Linked DNA regions of Homo sapiens: region 2 is linked to region 1. Evidence: fine-mapped expression QTL. A gene starts in region 1. The other region holds a variant in brackets. All regions are shown on one strand. Distances are from middle to middle.

The links. PIP is the estimated chance that this variant, and not a neighbour inherited with it, causes the effect.
Region 2: its variant is fine-mapped to the expression of PCHILR in prefrontal cortex (BrainSeq, PIP 0.95).

What each region holds. Positions count from the first base shown.
Region 1 is chr16:74,308,870-74,317,204 of GRCh38, reverse strand. PCHILR (prostate cancer associated HIP1 interacting lncRNA) reads right to left here and starts at 3,868. Exons shown (of 2, transcript NR_186416.1): 1 at 3,845-3,868; 2 at 1,565-2,059. It also overlaps the pseudogene RPL21P118.
Region 2 is chr16:74,336,510-74,344,844 of GRCh38, reverse strand. It overlaps the pseudogene PDPR2P. Among named protein-coding and RNA genes, the nearest start is that of PCHILR, 27 kb to the right of the region's middle. The variant A/G (reference allele first, on the strand shown) is at 4,955.

The DNA of each region.
Region 1 (8,335 bases):
AATGGAGATAGAGATTTGTCTTTTTCACTCTGTCGCCCAGGCTGGTGTGCTATAGTGCGATCTCAGCTCACTGCAACCTCTGCCTCCTGGGTTCAAGCAATTCTCCTGCCTCAGCCTTCTGAGTAGCTGGGATTACAAGCATGCATCCTGGCTAACTTTTTGTATTTTTAGTAGAGATGGGGTTTCACCATGTTGGCCAGTCTGGTCTCCAACTCCTAACCTCAGGTGATCCCCCTGCCTCGGCCTCCCCAAGTGCTAGGATTACAGGTGTGAGCCACCGCGTCCGGCCAAATAGCCTGAACACCTACTAGTTTATACATCTTGGATTCCAAGTCAAGCCATCTGACTTGAGTCCATGCTTTAAGCTGCTAAAATATACTGTGGTTTCAGAAATGGTAACCTCATGAACTGTGAGTAGGAGCATAAAGGACTGCAGCCACTCTAGTGTGCAATCTGGCTGTACTTAGAGACATGAACTATGCCTATATTCTATGTTCCTGCAAACTCCTGGACATGGACTCCACAGAAACTTGCTCAGGTCCTTATGAGGACATGTGGTAGCTTTGTTTGTGGCGGTGGAGAGCTGGAAGTAACCCAAGTGTCCAGCACTAGGAGGTAGGTAACTAAACCATGGCAGATGACTACAGTGGATCCCCACCTTAGTGGACTAGCAGCGTAGGCAGAGTTACGTCATGACGACAAACAGCCCTGAAATCTCAATGGCTGAACCCAAGTTTTATTCCAGCTAACATCAAATTGAATGCAAGGCAAGTGTTTCTCTAGGACATCTCTGCTCTCTAAAGGGACTCAGCAGTCAGGCTGCACCCTGTGTGACTTGCCATCTCAACATGTCCCTCCTCTATCGCCCAGGCGAGAGAGACAGGAGAGGGTTTTCACTGTCTCAGTCTCACTCTCTCATCAGGCTGGAGTGCAGTGGCCCGATCTCGGCTCACTGCATCCTCTAACTCCCTGGTTCAAGCAATTCTCCTGCCTCAGCCTCCCAAGGAGCTGGGATTCCAGGCATGCACCACCACTCCCAGCTAATTTTTGTATTTTTAGTAGAGACGGGGTTTCACCATGTTGGCCAGGCTGGTCTCTCTCCTGACCTTGTGATCCACCCACCCTTGCCTCCCAGAGTGCTGGGATTACAGGCGTGAGGCACTGCGCCCGGCCTGCTTATATTTTTTCATTGTCCAGAACTCATCTCGTGGCCTTCTCTGGAGCAAAGGGGTGGCAAGTGTAGTCTGCAGTATGTCCAGGAAAGAGGAATGTGGAACAGGATTTGGGAACACATAGTACTGTTGCTGCCACCAGCAGTTACAAGCTATGAACTGAATGAATCTATACATACAGCCATGAAGACATGTCTTTAAAACATAGTTTTGAGTTTTAAAAAAAGGTAGGAAAGAATGAGATTAAAGGGAAACTTATAGAAATTAAAACACATGCACATAGAACATTATGCTGCATGGGCTGGGTACGGTGGCTCACGCCTGTAATCCCAGCACTTTGGGAGGCTGAGGTGGGCGGATCACCTGAGGTCAGGAGTTCAAGGACATTATGCTGCATGTTCTTCGCGGATCCATCCATATCTAAGGACATTTATTAAACACATTGAAGTGGCTATAGCTTATGTGTGTGGGAAGGAAGGGTGGTTAGAATGATAGAGGAAATCAGGTAAAAAAAATCAAAGGACACGTTTGATGATGGTGATGATGATGATGGCAGTCATGAACTGAGGAGTGAGATTCATGCCACTCTACATTTGAGGTTCTTTCTCCAGCCATGTAACTCTGGCAATGGAGTAGAATAGGGAGGAGGGGGAAGGTGAGAACGTAGGTAGAAAGAGCTGTTGGGCAACTGTAGCAATAAAACAGAAAAGAGATGAATGTTTGCACATAGGCAGGGGCAGCAGGAATGCAGAAGGGCAGGTGTCAGAGAGCGTCCACGTGGTAGGACCCACAGGACCAGGTGGCTGAATGCAGAGGCTGAGGCTGAGCAGGGCGGCCAGTATGGCTCCTGTGTTCTGATGGCGTGTAGTGGCGTGACCAGCCAGGGTCTGGAAGAAAGAGGAATGAGTATTGGAATCAGAGGCATCAGATAACGATGTGGGATTCTTTAAGATATCAGTTGAGTCAAATGAGTGTCTAGAGAAAATGGAGCCAAAGGAGCTCAGGAGGGTCCAAGAAGCAGTTAAGAGTACCATGATAGAAGTGCCAGGGATCAAGTCAGGGAGGTAAGGTAATATGGTTTCGTTGTGTCCCCATCCAAATCTCATCTTGAACTGTAGCTCCTGCAATTCCTACATGTCACTGGAGGGACCCAGTGGGAGGCAATTGAATCATGGGGGTGAGTCTTTTCCATGCTGTTCTCATAATAGTGAATAAGTTTCACCAGATCTGATGGTTTTATAAAGAAGAGTTCCCAAGCACAAGTTCTCTCTTGTCTTCCGCCATGTAAGACGTGCCTTCTGCCTTCTGCCTTCTGCCATGATTGTGAGGCCTCCCCAGGCACTTAAACTGTGAGTCCATTAATCCTCTTTTTCTTTATAAATTACCCAGTCTTGGGTGTGTCTTTATCAGCAGTGTGAAAACGGACTAATACATAAGGGCTCAGAAGGGCCAACTGGATGGGCAAAGAAGCCATTGGTGACTTTAGTGAGAGCGACTTTAGTGGAATGGTGGGGGGGCAAAAGCCAGATTGCAGATGATTAAGGAAACAGTTGGAAGACAAGGAAGGCAACAGACATAGATTAGCCATTTGCTGAAGGTTAACTGGGAAAAGAAGGATGGAGGAAGGCTATACCGGGGGCTGCAGAGTGCAGATGTGCATGTGTAATATGGGAGGGAGCTGAGGGTTTATATGCTGAGGGGTAAAAGGTGGGATGGAGTCAGGATTGAAAATGAGGAAGAGAGGCCAGGTGCAGTAGCTCACGCCTGTAATCTCAGCACTTTGGGAGGCCGAGGCGGGCAGATGACAAGGTCAGGAGTTTGAGACCAGCCTGACCAACATGGTGAAACCCCATCTCTACTAAAAATACAAAAATTAGCCAGGTGTGGTGGCACACGCCTATAATCCTAGCTACTCAGGAGGCTGAGGTGGGAGAATCACTTGAACCTGGGAGGCGGAGGTTGCAGTGAGCCAAGATCATGCCATTGCACTCCAGTCTGGGTGACAGAGCGAGACTCCGTCTCAAAAAAAAAGAAAAAAAAAAAGAAAATGAGGAAGAGGCCAGACACGGGGGCTGACACCTGTAATCTCAGCACTTTGGGAGGCCGAGGCAGGCAGATCACTTGAAGTCAGGAGTTTGAGACCAGCCTGGCTAACATGGTGAAACCTTGTCTCTACTAAAAATACAAAAATTAGCTGGGCATGGTGGCAGGCACCTATAATCCCAGCTACTCGAGAGGCTGAGGCAGGAGAATCGCTTGAACCTAGGAGGCAAAGGTTTTAGTGAGCCGAGATCACGCCACTGCACTCCAGCCTGGGTGACAGAGCAAGACTCGGTCTAAAAAAAAAAAAAAAATGAAAACAAAGAAAATGAAGAAGATAGGGGCTCTACATGAACCAAGGATCCTAGCTGGTTATTTTGATTAAAAGATGACTCAAATGATGTTAACACTGATCAGACTTTAGCACGAGAGCTGCAGAGAAGGAAGACACTATGATGAGAATATATTTGGGGTTTTGAGCTGGGAAAAGACTTCTTAAATATGATCCAGAAAGTACTGGCCATAAGGAAAAAATGTTAACAGATTTGTCTGCACCAAAATCTACCAAGAGAGTCCTTTCAACTAGAACTGCCGTCACCACAATGATGAACATGGGGAAAGAGGAGAGGTACCTGCTGTATATTCTCAGGCCTTTTAGAACACATGGAGTTGTTCCTCTGGCCACATCCACACGAACCTACAAGAAAGGAGATGTTATAGACGTCAAGAGATGCCCCACGGATGTTACCAAGGCAAAAGGAATGCCCCACAGATGTTACCAAGGCAAAAGAGGAAGAGACTACATGTATCTAGTATGCTGTTGGCATGGTTGGAAACAAACAACAGCATGATTCTTGCCAAGAGAATTCATGTGTGTGTATGGAGCATACCAAGCACTCCAAGAGCTGGGAAGGCCTTCAGAAACACGTGAGGGAAAATGATCAAAAGAGAAGGAAACGGCCAGGCACGGTGGCTCACGCCTGTAATCCCAGCACTTTGGGAGGCTGAGGCGGGCAGATCACCTGAGGTCAGGAGTTTGAGACCAGCCTGGCCCACATGGTGAAACCCCGTCTCTACTAAAAATATAAAACTTAGCCGGGCATGGTGGCGCGTGCCTGTAGTCCCAGCTACTTGGGAGGCTAAGGCAGGAGAATCTCTAGAACCTGGGAGGCGAAGGTTGCAGTGAGCCAAGACTGCACCACTGCACTCCAGCTTGGGCGACGGAGGGAGACTCCATCTCAGAAAAAAAAAAAAAGAGAAGGAAGCCAGAGAGTACCTGGGTTCAACTGAAGTGCCAGCCTGCTCCAGCCAGAGAAGCACAATTTGTGAGAACAGGGAAAACGAACCCAAGCTGCTGGAACCCAATCCTCTTGAATTAATGGCTTCATAGGTATTAAAAAAAAAAAAAAAGGCCGAGCGTGGTGGCTCACACCTGTAATCCCAGCATTTTGGGAGGCCAAAGCAGGAGGATCGCTTGAGCCCAGGAGTTCAAGACCAGCCTGGGCAACATAGGGAGACTCATCTCTACGAAAAATAAATAAATAAATGATTTTAAAATGGCACAAAAAACAAACCAGACCCCTGGACTGTTAAAAAAAAAATTGATTGTTCTACATCAAAATAAATGTTCTCTAACTTTCATGTGGGCAGGAACCATATGGAGACCATCTTAAAAACACAGATCCCCAGAGATTGTAACACAGTAGGTCTGGGGTTGGGCCCAGAAACCTGAATTTTTATTATTTTTTTGAGACAGGGTCTCTGTCGCCCAGGCTGGAGTGCAGTGGTACAATCTCAGCTCACTGCAACCTCTGCCTCCCGGGTTCAGTAGATTCTCCTGGCCTCAGCCTCCCGAGTAGCTGGGACTACAGGTGTGCACCACCACACCCGGCAAAAGTTTGTACTTTTTGGTAGATACTGGCTTTCACTGTGTTGGCCAGGCTGGTTTTGAACTCCTGGCCTCAAGTGATCTGCCCGCCTTGGCCTCCCAGAGAGCTGGGATTACAGGCGTGAACCACCACACCTGGCCAGAAACATGAATTTTTAACAAGCATCATAGTGAATTCTTCTGTCATTGGTTCTATGTTTTGAATAACTGCTAGAGAACGGCCAGCTGAGGTCCTAGTAAGTGAGAACAAATCAGTCAACCAACCAATCAGCACCACCCCCTTCCGGAAAAGTCCCAAGCATTTGACAAAGATTTGTCACCTACAACTATCTGCCACTGTGTGAAGAGGGCTACTTTAAATGAACCCAAGTCTTGGTAAGTTTTCTTGAGAAAAACAGAAACAGGTACAAAATGAAAACAACTGGGGATTAAGTAACAGTCATGAAGGCAGTGATCATTTAAATAGGACTGGAATGGGTGGGCTTGGAGCCAGGTTGCACAGGTTTGCAAAAGCCAATTGTTAAATTTTCAGAAATTTTGTGAGCTGGAGGCTAAACAAAACCATTGTTAAAAATTAAATTGGGCCGGGCGCGGTGGCTCACGCCTGTAATCCCAGCACTTTGGGGGGCCGAGGCTGGCGGATCACGAGGTCAGGAGATCGAGACCATCCTGGCTAACACGGTGAAACCCCATCTCTACTAAAAATACAAAAAATTAGCCGGGCGAGGTGGCAGGCACCTGTAGTCCCAGCTACTCGGGAGGCTGAGGCAGGAGAATGGCGTGAACCCCAGGGGGTGGAGCCTGCAGTGAGCTGAGATCGCGCCACTGCACTCCAGCCTGGGCAACACAGTGAGACTCCATCTCAAAAAAAAAAAAAAAAATTAAATTGGATAAACTTACAATTAAATAGATTACATTAAGAAAAGATTTTTAAAACTCTCAACACATTGCATTCTAATTTCTTTTCTTTTTCTTTTTCTTTTTTTTTTGACATGGAGTCCTGCTCTGTTGCCCAGGCTGGAGTGCAGTGGCATGATCTCGGCTCACTGCACCCTCTGCCTCCTGGGTTCAAGCAATTCTCCTGCCTCAGCCTCCGAAGTAGCTGGGATTACAGGCGCCCACCACCTCGCCCGGCTAATTTTTTGTATTTTTAGTAGAGATAGAGTTTCCCCATGTTGGCCAGGCTGGTCTCAAACTCCTGACCTTAGGTGATCTGCCCGCCTTGGCCTCCCAAGGCCAGGTGTGAGCCATCGCACCCGGCCCTAATTTCTTTACTACATTTTACTATCAGGTGTGCTCCTCAGGTTATTTTTGTCTATCTTATCTGTAAGGTGGAAATACTATGTAGCACTGTGCTCCTGCGCCTCTCCTTCCAACTCAGGTTGTTGGCTTGAAACCAGGCACCGTGGAAGTATTTATACCAGTGAAATTGGGAAAGGCTTACAAATCAATGCTCCTCATCCCTTTTTTGGAGAACTGATTGTTACATGTTTACCAGAACACCACTGACCATGGTCCTTAAAGTAATTAGGCTGCACACGGTGGCTCATGCCTGTAATCCCAGCACTTTGGAAGGCCGAGGCAGGAGGATTGCTTGAGCCCAGGAGTTCAAGACCAGCCTGGGCAACAAGGTGAGACCTGTCTCTATAAAAAAGTTAAAAATTACCTGGGCGTGGTGGCTCGTGCCTGCCCTCTCAGCTACTCAGGAGGCTGAGGCAGGAGGATCGCTTGAGCCCAGGACGTTGAGGCTGCAGTGAGCTGTGATCGCATCGCTGCACTCCAGTGTGAGAGACAGAGCAAGACCCAGTCTCGAGGAAAAAAAAAAAATTAGAAGAGTAATACCAGCAGTAAGGGAAATCGAAGCACATACTATCTGCTTGTATTAATGTATTCATCCCCCAGCAGCAGTGTGCAAGAGGACAGTAAGGGTGGAGGTGTGGATGCTTAACCCAGTCTTTTTGCACCCATAGCCTCTTCAAGTTCCTTCAAAATTTTGCCTGGGTGGCTTCAGCTGAAAGCAGAAATGGCAGGAAGTAATTGGGGGAGATTCCCAAATCTATGCCCAACTGGGAATCAAATTTTTCTCTTGCCAAGAGATGAGCTGAGGTGAGTGAATGACGCCATCTAGTGTCGAAGAACAGGTTGGCTCCAAAGAGCAATGATTAGCAAAAGATTTCTCTTGATTTGGGCCCTAGAAACACGACTTCCATAATTTCTTCTTCCTTTCTTTTCACATATTTTCTTTCCTCACTTCCATGTCTATACTGAGTCAATTCTTAATTATTCCCCCAATAAAAACAGCCTTTACTTTTTTTTTTTTGAGATGGAGTCTTGCTCTGTTACCCAGGCTGGAGTGCAGTGGCACGATCTCCAGCTCAGTGCAACCTCCGCCTCCCGGGTTCAAGCAATTCTCCTGCCTCAGCCTCCCGAGTAGCTGGGATTACAGGCTCCCATCACCATGCCCAGCTAATTGTTGTATTTTTAGTAGAGATGGTGTTTCTCCATATTGGCCAGGCTGGTCTCGAACTCCTAACCGTGTGATCCGCCCGCCTCGGCCTCCCAATTACAGGTGTGAGCCACTGTGCCTGGCCAAAAAACAGGCTTTAGTTTTTAAAAAAAGATCTCAATTTTGCACTGCTACCAGGCAAAAATCGGTAATGCCAAGAGTTGAATGGCATAGGAATGTACACAGGTATTATGTGTAATAATTTGCAGTACATTTGCTTAGGGAAGTTGTAAACATTTTCTCTTGTGGGCCATATAAATCAAATGTTTCTCTGCCTTCCCACATGTCCTGTATCCACCGCATTTTCCCAGACAGGGCAGATGAAAGTGGTTTTGTTAGCATGTTATAGTCTAACAAACAATCCTAACTCATTCTCAAGTTTTATTCTGCTTAATGGAAAATGGTAGAAGAAAAAGCCTTTGCATAACTACCCAGTGAATGGGAGATTTCATTCTTTTCCATAAGTTGAGGGCTATTTCCTGTTTTCTTTTTCATTTTTTTTTGAGAAAACTAACCCTTCATTGAGATATTTTTAAGTCGAATATCTAGTATAAAAAGTTTGCATTGTTTCAGCTTGTTTTCATTTAAACCTGTGGTTGTCTTTCATCTGCTTCTGGCAATTTTTTTTTTTTTTTTTTTTGAGACAGAGTCTCGCTCTGTTGCCCAGGCTGGAGTGCAGTGGCACAATCTCGGCTCACTGCAACTTCCACATCCCCAGTTCAAGCGATT
Region 2 (8,335 bases), 28 kb before region 1:
GTAGGGCTACTTTGTCCTGGCAGGAATGAACTCTGCTGGCCTTTCATTTGGTGGAGGAGCCGGAAAGTAAGTCTTTCTCACTCAAAGTCAGCTGTGAACATAAGTCAACTTGCTGGGTCTCTTCCCTTCTAGAATTACTTGTTATTAACATGGCGTGTGGTATATTTAATCTAGTATGTTAAGACTAATAAGAAGATACATGTAATTTTGGAGTTGTCCCCTTCTAAGTATGAGAGGCTCCCCATGTTCCAGAAATGTCATCAGGCAAAATGTTTTTGCAACTCATCTTTTGGAGTTAGCCACAGATCCTGTGGGATATTCTTTTATATTTTTTCAATTGTAACAAATATTGGTCATTTGAGTGTGTATTTGAGTTTGGTAGCCAAGTGTGTTGATTGAGGTAGGTATTTGAACTAGGTAATACACGTTTTGTTTGTTTTTTTAGACAGTCTTGCTCTGTCACCCAGGCTGGAATGCAGTGACATGATCTCAGCTCACTGTAACCTCCACCTCCTGGGTTCAGGCTGTTCTCCTACCTCAGCCTCCCGAGTAGCTGGGATTAGAGGCGTGTGCCAGCACACCTGGCTAATTTTTCTATTTTTAGTAGAGACAGGGTTTCACCATGTTAGCCAGGCTGGTCTTGAACTCCTGACTTCAAGTGATCCACCCACCTTGGCCTCCCAAAGTGCTAGGATTACAGGCATGAGCCACCGTGCCCGGCCACAAGTTTTTGTTTAAAAATTAGACACTAGGCCGGGCGCGGTGGCTCACGCTTGTAATCCCAGCACTTTGGGAGGCCTAGGTGGGCGGATCACAAGGTCACGAGATCGAGACCACTCTGGCTAACACAGTGAAACCGCGTCTCTACTAAAAATACAAGAACAAAATTAGCCGGCCGTTGTGGCGGGCGCCTGTGGTCCCAGCTACTTGGGAGGTTGAGACAGGAGAATGGCGTGAACCCGGGAGGCAGAGGTTGCAGTGAGCCGAGATTGCGCCACTGCACTCCAGCCTGGGCGACAGAGCGAGACTCTATCTCAATAAAAATAATAATAATAAAATAAAATAAGACACTAATGAACATTAAATAAGCCAGTCACAAAAGGACAAATACTGTGTGGTTCCACTTATATGAAGTTGCTAGAGTTGTCAGATCATAGAGACAGAAAGTACAATGGTGTTTGCCAGAGGCGGGGGAGGGGAGCTATTCTTGAATGAGCACAGAGTTCCACAAATGCAAGAGGAAAAGAGTTCTAGGATGGATGGTAGTGAAGGTTACACCGCAGTGTGAATGTACCCACTGCCACTGAACTGAATACTTACAAATGGGTAAGATGGTAGCCACGATGAAAAGCTTATTTTAAATTTATGAGACCAGTTCTCTTGAGTGATTTGTAGAATGGCTCTAAAAACAATTACAGAAGAGGAGTTACAAAAATGTTTGGAGCAAAGGAGATGGGGTCACATAACTGTATAATCTTGAGGTGAGAGAAAAAAACCCATTGGATATTTAGAGTATATTTATATGTGTTTTAGTCTTATTTCTTCATAGATGAGGCTTATAACTTTTTTTGAAACAAGATCTTACTCTCACCCAGGCTGGAGTGCAGTGGCACCATCATAGCTCACTGCAGCCGCAAGTTCCTGGGCTCAAGGGATCATCCCGCATCAGACTCCAGAAGAGTTAGAACTAACTACAGGCATGTGCCACCATACCCAGCTCTTTTTTTTTTTTTTTTTTTGAAACGAAGTTTTGCTCTTGTTGCCCAGGCTGGAGTGCAATGGCACAATCTCGGCTCACCGCAACCTCTGCCTCCCGGGTTCAAGTGATTCTCCTGCCTCAGCCTCCCGAGTAGCTGGGATTACAGGCATGTGCCACCACGCCGGCTAATTTTTTTTTTTGTTGTTGTTTGTTTGTTTTTGTTTTTTGAGATGGAGTTTCGCTCTTGTTGCCCTGGCTGGAGTGCAATGGCGTGATCTAGGCTTACTGCAACCTCTGCCTCCCAGGTTCAAGCAGTTCTCCTTCCTCAGCCTCCGTAGTAGCTGGGATTACAGGCGTGTGCCACCACACTGGCTAATTTTGTATTTTTAATAGAGACAGGGTTTCTCCACATTGGTCAGGCTTGTTTCGAACTCCTGACCTCAGGTGATCCGTATGCCTCAGCCTCCCAAAGTGCTGGGATTACAGGTGTGAGCCACCTGGCTCACTTTGAAACTTTTCTTTTTTTGGTAGAGACGGGGTCTTACTTTGTTGTCCAGGCTGGTCTCAAACTCCTGACTTCAAGCAATCCCCTGCCTCAGCCTCCCAAAGTTCTGGGATTACAGGCATCAGCCAATGTGTCTGGCTGGCTTCTATGTTAAATGCCTCCTAGGGAATCTTATCATCTGGGGTAAAATCCTCATAGTAGTCTTTTGAGAGCAGTACACAGACCCATGTTCGTTGCTTCCAGAAAAGTTAAGGAAAGTGCCCAAAACTATTCAGCTGGTCTATGGCAATTTAGGATCTTTTGATTCTGTTAGTTCTCGATTTGTAGAATATTAATTTTCTCAAATCTCACACCTGAGCCCCAACAAGTGCCCTCTGTCTATATAGGTACCTTGCCGAATGGATGGTACATGGTTATCCCTCAGAAAACGTTTGGGAATTGGACCTGAAACGTTTTGGAGCCCTCCAGAGCAGCCGCACCTTTCTGCGCCACCGGGTCATGGAAGTCATGCGTAAGTGAAGCTTTATCGCAGTTGCTCCTAGTTGCAGGTATCTTCTCGGTGGCCCGTGTTGTCATTCAGAAGGAGCAAAGTTTTCCTCAGTTCTTTAACAAGTGCTTTGAGTTGGACATTTGATTTGACTGTTTCAGGCCTGAGTTAAGGGGCTTTATGCTCCTCATGATATATATGTAACATTTTCTTTAGTGCATCGGACCTTTTTTCCTTCTGGGAACAAGAAAGTAGAATAGGAGTTACAGTTGGTACATAGCAGCTTCATAAATATTCTAAGCAATGCCTTCTTCCCGGTCTGCCTTGAGAGACCGTATGTCGAAGTGCGTGCTTTCTGCAGTCTGCCTTGAGAGACCCTGTGTCGAAGTGAATGCTTTCTCACTCCCACTTAGTTTTTGAGAAAATGCTTTCTCACTCCCCACTTAGTTTTTTCTTTCCAAGTCAGAGAATTTGCCAAGTTATTCTCAGAGCTTCAGGCTTCCGTGAGTGACTTTCACCATTAATCCACCCTACAGCAGCAAGATTGGGAGCCACTTCCCATATAAATACAAAACATACATTCCTGCTCTCACTCCCGTGTTCTCGCCCTGCTTCAACTTTGAAGGACTGGCCACTTCATCTTAATTTGTTATTCTACCTTGATCTCTGATTTATTTTCTAGGAAGCCCTTAGAAAGCTTTTGTATCAGGAATTGAACCAAACCACGTGGGTTCAAGTTGTAATTTCATTTTCCTGTACTGAGGAGCTGTTCTCAGACTTTGCCAAATGGTATCTAAATATTTTGGGCATACTTATGCTCAGGACTAAGTTTCTGTGTTGGCTCTGACCACCATTCTTGGTTACAAGTAAACTGTTAGTTTGGTAGTTGAACAACATTGTTGGTGAGGACTCTGGATGGCCTTTAATGCCTGAGTGCTCACTTTTGGCCTGGGAAGAGGATGTACATCCATGGAGATGAAGGACCTAACAGCAATATGTTTAACTGCTAAGGTTCTTTAATTTTAGCAAATATTTTGGTTAAAATGTTGAACTTGGCTGGGTGTGCTGGCTCATGTCTGTAATCCCAGCACTTTGGGACGCTGAGGGAGGTAGGTCACTTGAGGTCAGGAGTTTGAGACCAGCCTAGGCAACGTAGCGAAACCCTGTCTCTACTAAAACCAAAACCAAAAAATTAGCCATGCCTTAGTGGCACACACCTGAAGTCCCAGCTACTTGGGAGGCTGAGGTAGGCGAATCACCTGAGCTGGGGAAGTTGAGGCTGCAGTGAGCCATGATGGTGCCACTGTGTACTCCAGCCTGGGCAGTGGGACTGAGACCCTGTCTCAAAAAAATAAAATAAAAAAATCAAAGTTTTTTGTTTTAAAGTTGAACTATTATAAGCCTAAATTTCCCCACCCATAGTTACTTTGGAACCTGTACAAATCATAATTGAGCTTGAGCTTCTGCTTGGTGATATGACACTTTTGGTAGCCAATTCTCATGAAATAGAAGTGGCAGGCACATAGAAAATGGGGAAGGCGCCAGGCGCAGTGGCTCAAGCCTGTAATCCCAGCATGTTGGGAGGCTGAGGCAGGCGGATCACTTGAGGTCAGGAGGTCTGGCCTGACCAACATGGCGAAACCCTGTCTCTACTAAAAATACAAAAATTTAGCCACGTGGTGGTATGTGCCTGTGATCCCAGCTCCTTGGCAGGCTGAGGCAGGACAATCACTTGAACCCGGGAGACGGAGGTTGCAGTGAGCCAAGATCGCACCACTGCGCTCTAGCCTGGGTGATAGAGAGGGATTCCATCTCAACAAAAAATAAAAAAAAAAAATAGAAAAGAAAATGGGGAAGGGGAAGATAGAACCTAAAGTACCAGGAGATGGAGAGATTGTCACCATGCAGAGAACCCCACCTGGCTTCCTTCTCCTGTCTCCCAACCTCCCCAAGCCTTGATGTGCCTTTTGTTTGGGACGGTGTGAGATCAGGTCTTCTCTTTGCAAGGGACCACAGATCCCACTCTTCTGGCTTTTTTTACTTATTGCTGTTGAAGATTAGACATTAAGGGAAATGAAATTTTTTTTTTTTTCCGAGATAGTCTTGCTCTATTGCCCAGGCTGGAGTGCCGTGGCGTGATTTCGGCTCACTGCAACCTCTGCCTCCTGGGTTCAAGCAATTCTCCTGCCTCAGCCTCCCGTGTAGCTGGGATTACAGGTGCCTGCCACCATGCCTGGCTAATTTATGTATTTTTAGTAGAGAC[A/G]GGGTTTCACCACATTGGTCAGGCTGATCTCGAACTCCTGACCTCGTGATCCGCCCACCTTGACCTCTCAAAGTGCTGGGTTTACAGACGTGAGCCACCACACCCAGCCTAAGAGAAATGAATTCTGACCCTAGCTTTGTTGTGTGAATAATGTCATTGGTACAATACAATGTAACTTCTCAGATTTCAGAGCCACCTAATCAAGCTACAATATGTACCCTTTCACTTCAGAAGTGAGTTAATTATCAGGGAGGAAATGTCTGTAACAGGTCTGAGATCCTAACACAGGCACAATGAAGAATCGAATGCCATTTTTTCACATTTTGTTACCACCTGTGTCCCACTTAGTAACCTTGTTCTCTGCTATGAAGCTTAGTAAGGTTTAGGACCCTGACCTTTCTGCCATCATTTCTACCTACTAATGTGGAATGCTGAATGTGAATACAGGCCGAGTCATGCCGTGACACGTAGCTCCAGGGAGGGACGATAGCAGCTTGGCAGGATTGTCTTTCCTTCTGGAGCATGCCTGATACACTGGGTAATTTTGAAAATTAGACTACATTAGCCTGGAAATTGGGCCGAGCAGAGTGGCTCACGCCTGTAATCCCAGCACTTCGGGAGGCCGGGGCGGGCAGATCACCTGAGGTCAGGAGTTTGAGACCAGCCTGACCAACATGGAGAAACCCTGTCTCTACTAAAAATACAAAAATCAGTGTGGCACGGTGGCACGTGCCTGTAATCCCAGCTACTCGGGAAGCTGAGGCAGGAGAATCGCTTAAACCCAGGAGGCGGAGGTTGCAGTAAGCCAAGATTGTGCCACTGCACTCCAGCCTGGACAACAAGAGCAAAACTCCGTCTTAAAAAAAAAAAAAAACAAACTACGTTAGCCTGGAAAGCTCTTTTGAATAGAAACAACTCCAGAGTCTAGTGGATATTGGCTACTCAGGTCTAGAATCTGTGTCTTGGGCTTTGATAGACTACTCGTGTCTTTTCTAGCTTTGATGTATGATCTGAAGGTTCCCCACTGGGACTTCCAGACCGGTAGGCAGTTACGCACCTCTCCTCTCTACGACCGGCTGGATGCACAGGGAGCCAGGTGGATGGAGAAACATGGATTTGAGAGGCCAAAGTACTTTGTTCCCCCTGACAAGGGTAAGAAGTCACATTCTCATTTTTGCTCCTTTTTTTTTTTGTCCTGGGAATTAATAAAACGTATTTTCAAATGCATAGGCTAGAATGTGTTCACAGAAGAAAAAGAACCACGTGGACTACACTAAACTCTACAGGGCCTTGTGATTTTTCCATTCCGTAGACCTCCTGGCATTGGAGCAGAGCAAGACTTTCTATAAGCCAGATTGGTTTGACATCGTGGAGTCTGAAGTCAAGTGCTGTAAGGAAGCTGTGTGTGTCATTGACATGTCCTCTTTCACAGAGTTTGAGATAACAGTAAGTATTTGGGAACCAAAGTAATAGATTAGGAAACTTTGCATATTTATTGAATGCCTTTTGTTTTTCATCTTCAAAACTGATTCCTGACTGGGTGCAGTGGGTCATGCCTGTATTCCCAGCACTTTGGGAGGCCAAGGGGGGCGTGGATCACCTGAAGTCAGGAGTTCCAGACCAGCCTGGCCAAGATGGTAAAACCCCGTTTCTACTAAAAATACAAAAATTAAGGCCAGGAGTGGTGGCTCATGCCTGTAATCCCAGCAGTTTGGGAGGCCGAGACGGGTAGATCACCTGAGATCAGGAGTTCAAGACCAGCCTGGCCAACATGGCGAAACCATCTCTACCAAAAATACAAAAAATTAACCAGGCATGGTGGCGGGCACTTGTAATCCCAGCTACTCGGGAGGCAGGAGAATCGCATGAACTCATGAGGTGGAGGTTGCAGTGAGCTGAGATTGCGCCACTGCACTCAGCCTGGGCAACAGAGTGAGACTCCATCTCAAAAAAAAAACAAAAACAAAAACAAAACACTGATTTCTTAAGAATTCTGGTATATTTTAGTGTTTCATCTGTATTGTGACATTTTTCTGAAATTTTAGCTCCTTGTTTCGGGTTTTTAATTTGCTAGAGAGGCCTGTTTATCATAAGAATCAATAGCTAGCATTCCCTGGAGCTTCTTGCAGTGGAGTAGGTCTGCAAGTGTTGTCACATGGGAATTGGCTGATTGAATTTTCTCAATGAGGTTCATTGCTGGTGGGGCCATGTGGCGCAGCCAGGTGCTCTCACTCTCACTCTCTCTGTTTCATTCCCTAACCCTGCAGACCACTGGGGATCAGGCATTAGAAGTTCTACAGTACCTCTTCTCCAATGACCTGGATGTGCCTGTGGGCCACATTGTGCATACTGGCATGCTCAACGAGGGTGGAGGGTATGAAAATGACTGCAGCATAGCACGACTGAACAAGCGCAGGTGAGATGAGCTGCCGTCCCGCTCTGCTTCCTCCAACATGTTGATTCCTTAGGGGTACTGTAGCAGAGGCTCTCAGGCGCTTCTCCACGAACCATAAATCCCAGGGACTAAGAATCATTACATGAAATCAAAGCCAGTTTATTAGCAGTCCTAAACAAAAGAAATCACCAGGAGGAAAAGAAAAAAAAGCCCACCAGATTATGTACCCTACTGGGAGAAGATGCCTTGTCTTTTTTTTTTTTTTTTTTTTTTTTTCTGAGACAGGGTCTCACTTTGTTACCCAGGCTGGAGTGCAGTGATGCAATCATGGATCCCTGCAGCCTCGACCTCCTGGGCTCAAGTGATCCTCCCACCTCAGCTTTCCAGGTAGCTGGGACCACAGGTACACGCCACCACACCCAGCCAGTTTTTGTATATTTTGTAGAGATAGGGTTTTGTCACATTGCCCAGGCTGATCTTGAACACCTGAGCTCAAGCAATCTGCCCACCTTGGCCTCCAAAGTGCTGGGATTACAGGCGTGAGCCACTGTGCCCAGCCGATGTCTTAACGTTAGTAAATCTGTATAATTTCTTGGCATTAACAGGAAGCCAGAATTTTGTTTTGTTGTTAGGTGGTGTATCCTAGAATGGTGCTACTGGCCTTCTGTGAAAGCTAAGAAATCATTTCCTAGTATTTGCCTCATTGCTTTGAAACCAAATAAGATTTGATTGCTTCCTGATCCTTTTGCTGCTACCTGGTTTTGATTATTTTGGGGTCTCACTTTTCAGTTTCTTCATGATCTCTCCAACCGACCAGCAGGTCCACTGTTGGGCCTGGCTTAAGAAACACATGCCGAAAGACAGCAACCTGCTCCTGGAGGACGTCACCTGGAAGTACACAGGTACGGGGGTTCGGGCTCTGCCACGTCGAAAAGGCCAGCAGATGCAGATGTGTCCACGTTTGCCTTCTTTACATTTGACTCTCA